Linked DNA regions of Homo sapiens: region 1 is linked to region 2. The links come from fine-mapping of genetic effects on gene expression. Tissue or cell type: whole blood. Region 2 holds a variant in brackets; the other region holds the start of a gene. All regions are shown on one strand. Distances are between the middles of the regions.

Evidence for each region. PIP is the estimated chance that this variant, and not a neighbour inherited with it, causes the effect.
Region 1: it holds the start of TOP6BL, and the variant in region 2 is fine-mapped to the expression of TOP6BL in whole blood (TOPMed, PIP above 0.99).

The regions. Positions count from the first base shown.
Region 1 is chr11:66,740,518-66,748,615 of GRCh38, reverse strand. TOP6BL (TOP6B like initiator of meiotic double strand breaks) reads right to left here and starts at 3,847. Exons shown (of 15, transcript NM_001302084.2): 1 at 3,697-3,847. It also overlaps a transcript of SPTBN2 not described here. RefSeq lists enhancers at 2,989-3,078, 3,519-3,628, 4,120-4,620 and silencers at 3,259-3,358, 3,769-4,158.
Region 2 is chr11:66,710,640-66,718,742 of GRCh38, reverse strand. It overlaps SPTBN2 (spectrin beta, non-erythrocytic 2), which reads left to right. Exons shown (of 38, transcript NM_006946.4): 4 at 2,762-2,913; 5 at 3,348-3,521; 6 at 4,336-4,427; 7 at 4,572-4,652; 8 at 4,997-5,112; 9 at 7,714-7,826; 10 at 7,974-8,103. It also overlaps the pseudogene RN7SL12P. Among named protein-coding and RNA genes, the nearest start is that of SPTBN2, 15 kb to the left of the region's middle. The variant G/A (reference allele first, on the strand shown) is at 4,950.

The DNA of each region.
Region 1 (8,098 bases), 30 kb before region 2:
GAATAACATGATAAAAGATTCTAATTGAAATTTTTAAATAAGCTACGACATAAACCATGACAAAAGAGATAGAAAATATTTTTTCTTTCTCTACTTACTAGTTGTTACACAATGAAGAGCATTTGCCTGGTGCTTAGAATTTAATCCTTCTATGGAAATCACTAGCTGCCCTTCTAGCAATGCTCCCTTTGATACATCTATGTCACACTTCCAGTGAATTATTAAAAATCTCAAAATCTGAAAAGAGCACAATTCAAAGAAAACATAATCTTCTTTAGAAATCACAGTAATAATACATCTCTATGACCCAGTTAAATTAGTAACTCTAATTTCCCCCCAAAAATTGTATTCTTGCTTCTAAAATGTCAGATTTAGGTTTGTTCAGAGTATTGTGTCTAAACAAAATAAATAGCTAGGAGAGTGACATAAGAAAAGAGTCAGTGAAATTCAACATAATGCCCAGTAAGACAGGAAATTGAGACAATAAATTCCTTTATTCAGAAGATAAATTCATCTGGAAATAATAATTAGGGAAAAATTAAGTGGGAGTTTGTTTTTCTTGTTTCTTTTTTCCTGCCCCAAATAAAAGCCAACATGAAGACTATGAATAAGAGTGGCATCTGGTTATGAATCATCTTGATCTTTCATTAAATCAACACTTTTGAGGGTCAGAATACTATTTAAGAGTGCTAATGCTGCCCTGCGCGGTAGCTTATGCCTGCAATCCCAGCACTTTGGGAGGCCGAGGTGAGAGGATCACTTGAGCTCAACAGTTTGAGATCAGCCTGGACAACATACGCAGACCTTATCTCTACTAACAACAACAAAAATTAGCCCAGCGTGGTGGCGTGTGCCTGTAGTCTCAGCCACTGGGGAGGCTGAGGCAGGATGATCTCTTGAGCCCATAAGATTGAGGCTGAAGTGAGCCCTGATCAGGCCACTGCACTCCACACCTGGATTTGAATCCCTGATGTGCCAAATTCTAGCATGTGACCTTGGGCAAATTACTTAATCTCTCCAAACCACAGACTCCTCATCTATTAAAATGGGGATAAAACTACCACATAGGGCTGCTGCTGAAAGTAAACAAATAAGGTACGTGCAACGCTGAGCGCAGTGGCTCATGCCTGTAATCCCAGCACTTTGGGAGGCCAAGGTGGGAGAATCGCTTGAGCCCTGGAAACATAGTGAGGCCCCATCTCTACTAAAAAAAAAAAAAAATTAAATAAAAATATGTGCAAAATGCTTAACACAGTACTTGGCAAATAGCAAATGCTTAACAGATATTAGCTATTATTTCTAAGTTCTAATGCAGTAAAGACTACACACAATATTTTAAGTTGAACAGGACTCCAAGATGTCTGGGTAAAACATTTAATCGACCGGGTGTGGTAGCTCACACCTGTAATCCCAGCACTTCGGGAGGTTGAGGCGGTGGATCACCTGAGGTCAGGAGTTCAAGATCAGCCTGGCCAATATGGTGAAACCCCATCTCTACTAAAAATACAAAAATTAGCCGGGTGTGGTGGTGTGTGCCTGTAGCCCCAGCTACTTAGGAGGCTGAGGCAGGAGAATTGCTTGAACTCGGGAGGTGGAGGCCACAGTGAGCCAAGATTGGGTCACTGCGCTCCAGCCTGGGCAACAGCAACACTCCGTTTCAAAAAGAAAAAAAAAAACACATTTATTCGAGACAAATTGAAAATAAAATATATTTCATTTATTTTTGGGGGGAGAGAGGGGACAGAGTCTCACTCTGACTCCCAGGCTGGAGTGCAGTGATGGCATCATCATGGTTCACTGCAGCCTCAACCTCCCGGGCTCAGGTGATCCTCCCACCTCAGCCTCCCAGGTAGCTGGAAGTGCAGCCGCCTGCCACCACACCCTGCTAATTTTTTTTTTTTGAGATGGAGTTTTGCTCTTGTAGCCCAGGCTGGAGTGCAATGGTGCGACCTCAGCTCACTGCAACCTCCGCCCCCTGGGTTCAAGCGATTCTCCTGCCTCAGCCCCACAAGTAGCTAGGATTACAGGCATGTGCCACCACACCTGGCTAATTTTGTATTTTTAGTAGTGACGGAGTTTCTCCATTTTGATCAGGCTGGTCTTGAACTCCCGACCTCAGGTGATCCGCCTGCCTCGGCCTCCCAAAGTGCTGGGATTACAGGCGTGAGCCACCGCTAATTTTTGTATTTTTTTCAGAGACGGAGTTTCCTCATGTTAGCCAGGCTGGTCTTGAACTCCTGATCTCAAGTGATCTGCCCGCCTCGGTCTCCCAAAGTGCTGAGAATACAGGCTACCCACCGCGCCCGGCCAACTCCCATTATTATTCATGCAAACAGATTCTCACTTTTACAGGGAGGCAACACAAGGAAAATTATTACCCCCTTTTTAAAGGCAGGGAGATCTGGGAACTAAGATCCTCATTTGTACCAGTTAACAAGAATGGTTTCCAGGTACGTGTAGAGTCTAACTATTCCTTCACACGTCCTCTGTTACGATATTCCCATATCGGGCCGGGCACGGTGGCTCACGCCGGTCCCAGCACTTTGGGAGGCGGAGGCGGGCAGATCACTTGAGGTCAGAAGTTCAAGACCAGCCTGGCCAACATGGTGAAAACCTGTCTCTACTACAAATACAAAAATGAGCCAGGTGTAGCGGCGTGCGCCTGTAATCCCAGCTACTCGGGAGGCTGAGACAGGAGAATCCCTTGAACCCGAGAGGCGGAGACTGCGGTGAGCCGGGATCACGCCACTGCACTCCAGCCTGGGCGAAAGAGCGAGACTCCGTCTCAAAAAACAAACAAACAAACAAACAAACAAACAAACCCTAAAGATATTCTCATGTCGGTATGACAGCGCAGTTGGGAAAAGAACACTGGCCTATGAGTCAGCGCCCTGGGTTCTAGCCTAGGTTCGGTTATTTGTAAAATGGAATCCCGCCGCCTTCTTTGATGACAACAAACAGGCAGGACGCCCGGGGGTACTCTCTCAGGTGCCCTCAGAGCCTGTGCTTCTGTCACCTGCCCAGTACCCCTCACAAACAGCAGCTCAACGTCCCATTGGGCACCGGCCGTGAAAGTGGGTAATGAAATGAGCACACGGGGCGTGGCCGGCGCCAGGCGCTCAGTGCCGTCTTCCAGAGCAGCTCCCCGAGCACAGGTGTGGCCTCTGAACCTCGCCCTTCCACGTCCAGCTGCTTCGAACCCAGAAACCTGCACCTGCACCGGGGCCTAAAAAAACTCTCCCTCGCTCCCAGTCTGCACTGGGTCCCTCCTTGCCTCTGTCCTGGCGCCCCGACTCCCCCCACCCCGCCCCGCAACGCCAGGGCTTGCCCCATTCCTTTCCTTCTTTCCGCGCCCCCTCCCAGCACCCGGTGCATGGAAGGCGCTGGGCTCCGGCAGGCACCTCCGAGGCTGCGTCAGGCTCTGCCCCTGGGTGTCCGCCGGTGCTCGGCAAACGCCGCAGCTTTCTGAGCCGTAGGCTGGAGAGAGGGCGTCGTTCCCCCACAGAGTACCCCGCGAGCGAGAGCCCTCATCTGCTCCTACTTCCTCGCTTCCCCGTGGGAGACGGGCCTCGATTCCCGAACCTTCCTCCTTCACCTTAGGCGACGCCCGACCCCTCTGCCCAAACTTCGCGGTCTCCTCACAAAGCCCGTCTCCTCAGAAAGTGTCCTCCGCTTTCTCTCCCTTCCCAGCATCACCTCGAACACGGCCACGGCCGTCCCCTCCATGCCGCGCAGGGAACAGCGGCAACGCCCAGTCGAAGGGTACCCGCCCGCCGCCGCCGCCGCCGCCGCCGCCCCCTCCTCAGCCCGGGCTTGGAACTCCGCCAGTGCCCACGCCCGAGTCCACGCCCACGCCCGGCAGCGCGAGCCCATCCCTTCCCGCGCGCGCGCCTGCGCCCGCGCACGCCCCGCCCACCTGCCCGCCGCGCCTGCGCACTCGACGCTGCAGGGCCCCGAGACCGCGAACCGCCGCCGGGAGCCACCTAGAGCCTCTGAGCGCCGCGGGTGCCAGTGGGCCCGCAGGTGGGAGGTTCGGGGCGGGGAAGAGCCCGCGAGAGGCGGCCAAGGCTGGAGGTGAGCGGGAATGAGGCCAGGCCACGACTCCTCCCTCCTCTCAAAGATAGTTTCCCACGGTGGCGGCGAGATGCGGCCCTTGGCCCTAATCCGGGCTTTGGCCGCCCTTCGCGCTTTCCAGGACCCTTCCCTCGGCCGGGAGGGGCGACGGTAACGGCGCGGGGCTACCAAGCGGGTTCGTGACCCCTCCAACAGCCTTGTCTGCGGCGGGGGCTGCCCCAGGCCAAGCCCTGGGTCCCAGACTTAGCAAAGAAAAAGACGGCCAATTAAAATTGAATTTCATATAGACAGCGAATTTTTTTTATAACCATACACATATCTCGGCAATTTTTGGGACATATACTAAAAAATTACTAATCTGAAATTAAAAACGACGCCCTGGGCCGGGCGCAGTGGCTCACGCCCGTCATCCCAGCACTTTTGGAGGCCGAAGCGAGTGGATCACCTGAGGTCAGGAGTTCGAGACCAGCCTGGCCAACATGGTGAAACCCCGTCTCTACTGAAAATACAAAAATTAGCCGGGCGTGGTGGCGGGCGCCTGTAATCCCAGCTACTCGGGAGGCTGAGGCAGGATAATTGCTTGAACCTGGGAGGCGGAGGTTGCAGTGAGCCGAGATCGCGTCATTGCACTCCAACCTGGGCAAAAAGAGCGAAACTCTGTCTCAAAAAAAGAAAAAACGACCCCCCGTCTTTTACCTTACAACCAGCCCCAAGCATCTCCCAGCCTAATCCAGGGGGACCAGCTTCCCCCGCAAAGGTGGGACCTGGGAGTCGACCCCTCCCTATCCAGGCCCCTTTCCACGTTTGACTGCACTGAATGTGCCAAGACCAGGAGCTGGCTTTTCTGGGCTCTGGCTGACAGGAGAAGCTCTGGGGTTTTCCAAGTGCATTCCTGGCTGGAATAAGGAGGTCCTGCAGAGTCCCAGCTGCTGCTCTCTGCCAGGTTCCGGGAGGGGCATGGTGACAGGGGCTTAAGCCTATAACTGCTGGTGATCTGACAGCCAAAAGAAAACCCTGATGAGAGATTCCTGCCTGGCAAAGAGTTGCCCAAGGAGAAGGGTGGGACAGGGTGTTGGCTGCTTTCCTTCAGGAAAAATTCTTCCACCCCAGCTCCAAGACGCCAGGATTGGACAGAACAGGCTGGCGAGCTGGCAGAGTGCCTGCCCAGTACACAACCTTGGTGCTACTCCAAAGAACATTGTCTATCGAGACCTGAATCATACCCTTCTCGAGTCTATGCTCAGCGCTCCTCCCCATTCCTCCCCATCTCAGTTGCTCACAGGTAGACCTATTGGAGCAAGGTAGCTTTTATTTCTGGAAAATCCATCGTAACCATCAAACTTGATAAACAGCTGGCATTTGAGGAATCATTGGAGTCTTCCTTTCATTCCCCCCACACCCCCCGCAGAGCTCCCCATCCCCACCCCCAGTCTCTTGTCCTTTTTCAGAAGAGGAGTTGCCAAGGGGAAGGGACCAGTAACATTGAATGACTGCTTGTTGTCGGACCCCACTAGCTCTTTACATAAATGATGTCATCCTCTCAACTATCTTGTAAGAAAATTGTTATCGTCACTATTTTATGGGTGAGAAACCAAGGTATTGAGGATGGTTCTTTAAAATATTTCCCATCGTGGCCGGGCGCAGTGGCTCACGCCTGTAATCCCAACACTTTGGGAGGCCCAGGTGGGTGGATCATTTGAGGTCAGGAGTTCGAGACCAGCCCAGCCAACATGGTGAAACCCCACCTCTACTAAAAATACAAAAATTAGCCAGGCGTGTTGGCATGTGCCTGTAGTCCCAGCTACCTGGGAGGCTGAGGCAGGAGAATTGCTTGAACCCGGGAGGTGGAGGTTGCAGTGAGCTGACATCACACCACTGCACTCTAGCCCGGCTGACAGAGTGAGACTCTGTCTAAAAAAAAAAAAAAATTATCATTGTGAGTGTTGGCCCAGCAGAAAATGCTCCACCTTGAGAATGGCATTGAGAATGAAGATGAGTTGGTTTCCTAGCTTCCAGCCCTTGTCCTTGGAAATGAGCCTCTAGCTTTCAGCCCTTGTCCTTGGAATGAACTTCAGGGATAAAGGTGTAATGGAGCACCCAATACCACCCTAGAGGCAGTGGAGGCCTCTCAAAGGTAGCCAGGGACACAGCTGTCCTCCCTACTGGACATAGGGAGAAGCAAGGAGGGAAGCCTTCGATATGAGGGTTTGCCATCAGGACTTCCGTAGCGTAAACCCACGTATTCAGGCAGCATGCAATATAGGCTTGATATATGGTGAGAATCCACTCTGTGCTAAGTGCTCTTCACTTTTTCTTATTCATCTTAAGCAGTTCTCCCAATTTTGTAATCTTGTAAGAAAGATGTTATCTTTGTTTTAGAAATGATAAAAATGAGAATCCAAGAAGAAGTTGTATGAATAAATCAGGCATGGTGGCTCATGCTTGTAATTCCAGCACTTTGGGAGGCCAAGGCAGGAGGATTGTTTCAGGCCAGGAGTTTGAGACCAACCTGGGCATTATAGTGACAGCCTGTCTCTACAAAAAAATTTAAAAATTAGCCAGGTACAGTGATGCATGCCTACAGTCCTAACTACTTGGGAGGTTGAGGTGGGAGGATCTCGAGCCCCTCGAGTTGGAGGTTGCGGTGAGCTATGATTATGCCACTGCACTCCAGCTTAGTGACAGAGCAAGACCCTGTCTCAAAAAAAAAATTAAAATTTTAAAAACGGTTTTTTGCTCAGACCTCATCCTCAGAACACTAGAATGTTAGAGCCAGAAGGGACTTTGGAAATTATCAGTTATCTATTAAGATGAAGAAATTTGAAGCCCAAAGAAACTAAATGACCTGCCCTTGGTTAAGGTCACCTTAGTTAACTAGGCCAACCAAGGAGGCTTTGAGTATGGCTCTCGATATTTTCAGCCCTGGCCTTCCAGGTCTCATTTATTGGCAGTGTCTGTAGGGAGCCAGTTATTTCCAGTCCTTAGACTGGGTGACATATTGATTCTGCTTCCATTTCTGCACCCACCTCAGAATTTATATTACTGTTTCATGTTGTATTAGTTCATTCTCATGAAGACATACCCGACACTGGGTAATTTATAAAGGAAAGAGTTTTAATTGACTCATTGTTCATCATGGCTAGGGAGGCCTCAGGAAACTTAGAATCATGGCAGAAGGGGAAGTAAACAGATACTTCTTCACATGGCAGCAGGAAGGGGAAGAATGAGTGCCCAGTGAAGGGGGAAGCCCCTTATAAAACCATCAGATCTCTTGAGAACTAATTCACTATCAGAAGAACAGGATGAGGGAAACTGCCCCCATGATTGAATTATCTCCGCCTGGTCCCTCCCATGACACATGGGGATTATGGGAACTACACTTCAAGATGAGATTTGGATGGTCACACAGCCAAACCATATCACATGTCTACTTTGGATATCTTGTTTATTCCAAAAAGAAACCCTCTGTCTGAGACACACTCCCTGCCCCCCTATAAGAAGAGCCCAAGACTGATTCTGACCCAAACTCAAGGGTTTGAGTGGAACCAGAACATCCTAGGGAGTGCTGCCAGATGAACAATGACATTTTAGGGACTGTTGAGCTTTCCTTTTGAATGTGCCCTCTCTGTGTCTCCTAGACACTTCTTAAGGCCCCACCTTGTTTCTTAGGCTCCCCTAGAGCTTTCAAATGCCCTAAAGAGGCTGACCCTAGGAACTTAAGTAGAAAATATCCTTGAGGTCCGCCTTTCCAAGCTGATGCAAAAGGAAGTCCATTTGAAGACTCCCTCCCCTGGGAAAGAACCAAGCAACTATTAAGCTGTTTCCCATCCAGACAGTAGGAAAGGGTTAACTGCTTCTCTCGGGTCCTGAGCAAAGTCTGTCCCATACCAGTTCCCATAACCGGGTTTCCTGAAATGGAGCAGGTCCCAGGTGACTCTCCACTAATCACATCCTTGGAAATGGGGCCATGAGGCTCAGATTAGCTCATCCCTTCACCTTCTTGAGGCCTTCTCCACCTGGAGCA
Region 2 (8,103 bases):
CATTCTTGAATCCCCTGACGCTGGACTCCAGCCTGAGGTTCCACTGGGGAACAGAAACTGGCCCCCTGCCAGCGGGGAGCATGGACTCTGGGCCCTGGGCTCTGTAACTAGCAGCTGGCAGCATGAATGGGAACGGAGTGAGCAGGGTGCACGGGAACGGCCTGCATGAGGCCAGCGAGTTTTACTATGAGGCTGTGGAAGGGGCCCACAACCCCGGGGGCCTCCTGCTTTCACCAGCTGCTTTCATCAACCCTGCTCAGTATGCCAGCGTGCTGGAAGGACGCTTCAAACAGCTGCAAGGTGAGGCCCGGGGGCCCCCTGTGGGGACGACTGTGCCTGGGCGAGAGGGACCTGGGTGTGGGGAGAGTGGCCGGAGCTGAGGACCTGGCACAGGACACAGTGTGACTCCAGTGTTTGTGTTGGGAGACAACGTGATGCAGCTTAGAGGGGATAATTACAAGAGGCCGGAAAATACACAGATGTCAACGGAATGGGGAAAGGCTTGGACCTGCTGGCAGGGACCGTGTATGATGGCATGGGTGGGTGTGACTGCCGGGCCTTGGGGTGCTGCATGGAGCAAAGGCAACTAGCCATGGAGGGCGTGGGGGTGCCAGCACCTGGGGAGGCGCCAGCAGTGCCTCTGAGGTGGATCCGGATCTGGCGGTGGAGCGCTGGCCAGGACAGTTAGGGGAGGCGGAGGGGTGAGCCAGGCCCAGGGACCTGGAGATTGTGTTTTCCAGGCCTCTGAGCGTGTGTCTGAATGTGTACACGGGGGCAGTGTGTGTGGAAGCAAAGGGAGTGTCTCGAAGGAGAGGATCTGTGCAAACAGGCCCAGGTAGATGTCTGCGCAGGTGTGTGTTCACTCTGGCACAAGTGCTTAGGTGTGTTTTTGGGAATCACTGTTGTGTGTGTGTGTGTAAGGATCTAGGGATGCTGTGGGCGTCTTGTGACGTGACACTTGGTTTCTGGTGCTTGGCTTTGCCCATTTTCCTCCTAGTTGCCACTAATTCTGTGTCTTCTGACTGTGTGCCAAAATGGCCTCACCCCAGGGTGCCCAGCAGTAGGGCAGTGCCCCTGGATCCAGCAATGGCCTGTGACCCACGCTCCTCCTGGCTCAGATGGGGCCTGTAGACCTGCCGGGAGGCCCCAAGGCACCTTGGTTTCATGGGTGCTGGGGAGCATGGGGCCGTCCCATGTTATTAGGACCCCAGGTTTGGTGCCAGTATAGTGGCTGGAGGTGAAAGACACGGAGCGACGTGGGTGTGTTGCTGTGTCTTATGGGTGAGGTGCTTAGGAATGTGAGATTAAGGGATGAGTCTTTCCGGTTTCTGAGATGCTGGTGCTGAGACGGAAGCAAAAGTGACTCTTCAGACCCCAGCCACTTGGGTTGGGTCCTTGCACAGGGCTCTCTGTGGGAAAGTGGCAGAAATCCTCATCACCAGAGCAGTTTCTGATGCTTTCACTTTGTCACTTAGAACGTTCTTAATTTTTATTTTCCTACGGAACCTAGTATTTACTTCCCCTCTTCAGTAGCTCCCCTCCCCTGTGGGCTGGGCAGCAGGGCATTGCCTAACTTTTTTTTGAGATTGGTACCTAACTCTGCCTGGCTTTTTTTCCCCCATGTTTCCTGGCCTCACTGTTTTCCCAGTTCCCAACTCTCAACATCTTGTTCTTCTAAGCAATGGGGTGTTTATGTCCTGGAACTGGATCCCCTTGCAGCCAGCTGAATGTACTGTCCCCAACCCCCAGAAGCAGAGGAGCCTGCCTTTTCTTTAAGTTATCCAAGGACAGTAAGCTGACTCAGGAGGCCTGCAGCCTCTATACCATCAAGTCCTAATGACCGCTTGGAAGAGCCGCTGCAATAATTTTAGCCCACACCTTCTCCTTTGTCTGCAACCAAAAGAGAACAGCCATACCTCCCACCGGCCTGGGCAGCTCTTGCTCTCCTTCGGGCCAGATCACACCACTTTATAACAGCAGCTCACCAAGGAGCCATTTTGTGCCAGGCACCAACTAGTTGTTTTATATACCTTATCTCATTTAATCAACACAATGACCTGTTGAAGTAGAAAGTGATGTTCCCATTTTACAGATGAGACATTGGGGCTCTGATGAATGAAGTCACTTGACCAGCATTCCACTGCTTCCACGACTGCCCCATCCCAGCCCCTCCCTGCATGTCCCATGGTTTCTGAGGATGAAAGGTCTTCATCCTTTCTTCTCAAAGCCTATTTTCTTTTCTTTTCTTTTCTTTTTTTTTTTTGAGACGGAGTCTTGCTCTGTCGCCCAGGCTGGAGTGCAGTGGCACAATCTCGGCTCCCTGCAAGCTCCCCCTCCCAGGTTCACGTCAGTCTGCCTCAGCCTCCCGAGTAGCTGGGACTACAGGCGCCCGCCACTATGCCCGGCTAATTTTTTGTAATTTTAGTAGAGACGGGGTTTCACCGTGTTAGCCAGGATGGTCTCGATCTCCTGACCTTGTGATCCGCCCGCCTTGGCTTCCCAAAGTGCTGGGATTACAGGCATGAGCCACCACACCCAACCTTCGCCTATTTTCTGTCTTTCATCTTTCTTCTTTACCTTGCTTATGAGCTCATTGCAAGTTACGGGCTTTCCTCCCGGTCATCTTCCTTCCCTTCCTCCTCCTTAGAGGACCCCGCTTCCCATCTCTCAGGCTTCTCCATCCCCCACCCCTGCCAACTGGTGTTTAGAAGCAGGCATACTGAACTCGAGGGACAGAAATAAACCCATGTTGCCACCACAGATGAACGAGAAGCTGTGCAGAAGAAAACCTTCACCAAGTGGGTAAACTCGCACCTGGCCCGGGTCACGTGCCGGGTGGGGGACCTGTACAGCGACCTCCGGGACGGACGCAACCTGCTGAGGCTCCTCGAGGTGCTCTCGGGAGAGATACTGGTGAGCTGTGGTCATGAAGGGAAGTGGGGGGGCCTTAGAAAAGTGTCCAAGGGGACCAGCTGGAAGAACAGCCCTCAGAGAGAGTGACGGCACAGGGCGGGAAGCAGTGGCTCCCTCTGCTCAGAGGATGGGTTCATTTCAAGTGCCTTTGCCACTTAGATTACATAGGAGCATTGCTTCATGGAGACAGGAACAGTGGCCCCATTGAAAACATTTCTTTTCCCACCTACTCTGGGTGCAATTAATTCCCTTGGGAATCTTAATCTGCCCAAGCCTCATCTGTAAGCTCAGCTTTGGCTCCAGCCCTGGGGCTGTGCCTGTCTGTGTTCCTGAGGTAGGTCATGGGGAAGGTGTGCAAAGCTGGGCCCTGTGAAGGCTGGGGAAGAAGGTGGAAGCCCACAGTCCCGTGCCATTTTGCCCCCGTCCCTCCACAGCCAAAGCCTACAAAGGGCCGCATGCGGATCCACTGCCTGGAGAACGTGGACAAGGCACTGCAGTTCCTCAAGGAGCAGAAAGTGCACTTGGAAAACATGGGCTCCCATGACATTGTGGACGGAAACCACCGACTGACCCTTGGGCTGGTCTGGACCATCATCCTTCGATTCCAGGTACCCCAGCACACTGTCACACAGGGTGTGGTTCCTGCCCTGGCTCTGCACCGCAAGCCGTTCCTGCTGGCCCATGACACAACAAACACAAAGATGGAGGATCTAGAACCTTATGTAGCAGCTGCCATGGCGGCGCTATCCAAGCACCAGATCAGTGGACTCCCCTCTTTCAGCAGGGTAGAAACCAGCTTGGGTGAATGTCACACCCCTGTGGCAAATTCCCTGTGTTCTGGTCTGTGTGTTGGTCGTGTGCAATGGGACCAGGACCACAGGTTGGTCCACAGGAGACTGGAAGTTTTACCAACTGGTCCTTCACCACAGGGATTTGGGAACTTCTAGAGGGTCTGGTCACTGGCACCAATTCCCTGCCATAAACTCTGCCTGCCTCCCCCAATGGAACAGTCACCCTCCTCCTCCTCATGCCCCAGTGTCCTCATGCCATCACAGCGTTCCTGATCACCCCCTTCCTTCCCGGGTTCTGTCGGCTTCACCTTGGAGAGCCAGCTTTTAGAGACCTTGGAGAGCCAGCTCTCAGAAAATGTTCACTCTTCTGCCTGCAGTTCCCCACCTGGAGGGACCAGCACCCTCCACTCAGACACACCCATTCTTCAGCATCCTACCCTAATCTGCTGCCTCAAATCCCTTGCACCCAGTGTTTTGTGGTCCCTGGCCTAGGTTGAAAGGACCTCAGGCTATGCCTGTCCACCCCATTACCACAGTCTAAAGAGCAGTTTCCTGCCATTTATCTGAGCATCTCTGATAACACCAGGAGTTCCTGTCCAGGGACTGAGGGCCCTGCTTGCTTCCTTCCTAGATCCAAGACATCAGTGTGGAGACAGAAGACAACAAGGAGAAGAAGTCAGCCAAGGATGCCCTGCTTCTGTGGTGCCAGATGAAGACTGCAGGGTGAGGACACCCTGGGCGTGTGGCACTGGAGGGTCAGTGACCCCCAGGCTGTGCTGGGCTCCAGGAACCATGAGCTGGTGACTGCCCTGGAGTCATAGAACAGAGCTCAGCCCTACTCACCATTTTCTGAATCTCTGTTTATAGTTATCCCAACGTCAATGTACACAACTTCACCACCAGCTGGAGAGATGGACTAGCTTTCAACGCCATCGTGCATAAACACCGGTGAGAAGATGGGGTTAGCAAACGCAGCAGAGCTGCTGGGTCGGCTAATGACCTGGGGTGCACATGTGGAGACAGAGATGAGATGAGCTGCACAGCAGTCAGACGGAAGGAATAGCACTCGGAGCAGAACCAGAACATGGGGGTGCAGGGCTGCGCAGAGCACTTGTGATGGGAAGCAGGGGAGGTGGTGTGGGGAGGGGCTGTGAGCAGCAGTGTGGGTTTGGGATGCCTACTTCTGGACAAAATTGGGTCGGTGACTTAGGGATAAAGATTGGTGTGGGTTTCCTCTTCCTCTTC[G/A]AGATCTCACATGTTTCTGATCCCTTCTGTCTTGCCTCCCCACCCAGGCCAGACCTGCTGGATTTTGAGTCTCTGAAGAAGTGTAATGCACACTATAATCTGCAGAATGCATTCAATCTGGCTGAAAAGGAACTGGGACTTACCAAGCTGCTGGATCCCGAAGGTGGGGCCAGAGCTATGTGAAAAAGAGGTGGTAGGGTAGAGACAGGAGGTGGACCAGTGGTTGCCAGGGGCTGCGGAGGGGGAAGACATGGAGTAACCACCAACTGATACAGGGGCTTCTTTGGTGGGGGAAGAGAATGTTCTGGAATTAGAAAGTGGTGATGGTTACACAACCTTGTAAATATACTGAAAAACACGTGGTTGCTCACACCCAGCACTTTGGGAGGCCAAGGCAGGAGGATCACTTGAGCCTAGGAGTTTGGTACCAGCCTGGGCAACATAGTGAGACCCCATGACTACCCCTCCCCCCCAAAAAAAATATATATCTTTACACTGAAAACCACTGAATTATATACATTGAAAGGTTGAATTTTATGGTGTGACAATCATTTCTCAGGTTTTTTTTTTTTTTAACAAAAGACTGTAGGTAGGAAGAAAGGCAGCCCAGTGACAGAAAGAGCCCTGGACTGTGGGTTGTGTCCCAGGCAGAGCACAGAGGAGCTCTGTGACATACAGCCAGTGGCTAGCCTCTCTGTGGCTCAGTTTCCTCATGTCTTAAAAGAGAGAATTGGTCTCTAAGGGCTCTTCTGAAATTCTAGGATTCTAAATTAAGCTACATGTTGCTGGCCACGGTGGTACCTGCCTATAGTCCTAGCTGCTAGTGAGGCTGAGGCGAGAGGATCACTTGAGCCCAGGAGTTCTAGGCTGCAGTGGGTTATGCTGATTGGATATCTACACTAAATTCAGCACTGGTGACCTCCTGGGAGCAGGGGACCAGCAGGTTACCTAAGGAGGACTGAACCAGTCCAGGTCAGAATGGAGCAGGTCAAAACTCCCACACTGATCAGTAGTGGGATCACACCTGTCAATAGCCACAGTACTCCAGCTTGGGCAACAGCGAGACCCATCTCTATTTTTTTAAAACAAATTTTTAAGAAAAAAAATTAAGCTGCATGACCTTCCACTCTCACCCAGAACTGGCCTGTAGTCAGCTGACCTTGCTGATTGGTTCCTGTGGTTCTGGTCATAATGCCGATGAGATCGATGAGATCAGTAACAGCCACTGGGCTCTTTTTTTTTTTTTTGAGACGGAGTCTCACTCTGTTGCCCAGACTGGAGTGCAATGGCGCGATCTCGGCTCACTGCAACCTCCGCCTCCTGGGTTCAAGCAATTCTCCTGCCTCAGCCTCTTGAGTAGCTGAGATTACAGGCGCATCCCACCACGCCCGGCTAATTTTTGTATTTTTAGTAGAGACAGGGTTTCACCATGTTGGTCAGGCTGGTCTCTAACTCCTGACCTCGTGGTCCGCCCACCTCGGCCTCCCAATGCGCTGTGATAACAGGTGTGAGCCCCCGCGCCTGACTGCGATTAGGCTCTTATTTGATACCTGGTTCTGCACTTGATGTGTTTTAATCTTCACAACACCCCTTTGAAATCAGTACTGTTGTTATCCTCAGTTTATGGAAGAGAAGATGGGGGCCTATAATGGGTAAGCAACTTGCCCAGGTCCTCCGGCAGATGGAGCTGAGATTGGCGTTCAGGCAGCCTGGCTCCAGAGCCTGTTTCCTCCGCTGCCTCTGGGAAAGTGGAGACCAATCTTGGTGCAACCAGAACAGGGAGGAGAGAAAGGCTCGCCTGCTGGAGGTGCTCCTTAAGTTCACTGGGTGGATGTTCACTGGTCTTGGCCATTTTCTCCCTGTTTTCCATTCTACCTGTAGCCCTATCACCTGGGCCTTTTTACTGCAGAATGACAAGTGTCAGCGAGCTAGCAACAGACATAGGCTTCATGCAGTGCTCCTTGGAGAGCCTCTGGGTAGCATGGCTGTAATTCAGAACCTGGAAATAAAGCTAAGCATTCTGTAACTTTCCGAGATGACTTCAGTGGCTCCTGCCTGCCCATGTATTTCCAGAAATAGGCAAGAGGCTTCTGGTCTCATAGTCTTACCTTTAGGATAAAATCTGGCCTATTTAAAAGAACCCACAGATTTCAAGTTATGGTCAGCCTCAGTTGTGCGCTGGAAGCCAATTCGGCTTGAAAGACACTCCCCTCCTTGGGCCCACAGCTGAGCTTTAGGATTGAGGTTAGAAACGGCGTGATCACACCTGGAGATGGTGCTGAGAGCTGGCCTCTGTCCCCACTGAGCTGCAGGGATCACAGGGCCCATCGATCTGAGCATCCTAGGTTCAGGAGGCTTAGTTCATACCTTCCGTCCCACTGCCCCTCAATCCATTGACTTCTTAAACATTATTCTAGCCTAAAAGTCCATGATCCATCCCCACATAGCAATGCTGTTTCTTTTCTTGCTTTTCTTCCCCAAACAACTGATTTTGGTCTCCACGGGGAACTCTGGGTAAAAGCTTCCTTGTGCTTCTGGGGTTTGTGCTCTGCTTGGAGGGCCCTTCTTGTTTCCAGGAGAAGGGGAAAAAAAGATGAGCTTTTTGGTGCCCTTTTCATTTGAATGGGTAAGTTGTCATTTTGCTCTAAAAGGAGATGGAGAGATGTCAGCCTTGGAGGACTGGGCAGGCCCAGGGTTTGGGGTAAGTGATGCAAGTTATGGATGAACTTCTGGGAGGCCTGACCCAAATGGTCCTCTCTTGCAGACGTGAATGTGGACCAGCCAGATGAGAAGTCAATCATTACCTATGTGGCTACTTACTACCATTACTTCTCCAAGATGAAGGCCCTGGCCGTGGAAGGCAAGAGAATTGGCAAGGTACTGTCCATGGGCAGTAGGCATAAAGGCCAGAGGAGGCCCGGCTGAGGGGTCTTACTGCCCTAGTGCAAGGGCAGGGTGGAGCTGCAGGACTGGGCCAGGGACCCTGTGGCTGGGACTGTCACGTCCCTGTCTTCTGCCTCCCAGGTGCTGGACCATGCCATGGAGGCAGAGCGCCTGGTGGAGAAATACGAGTCCCTGGCCTCGGAGCTGCTGCAGTGGATCGAGCAAACGATCGTGACCCTCAATGACCGGCAGTTGGCCAACTCCCTTAGCG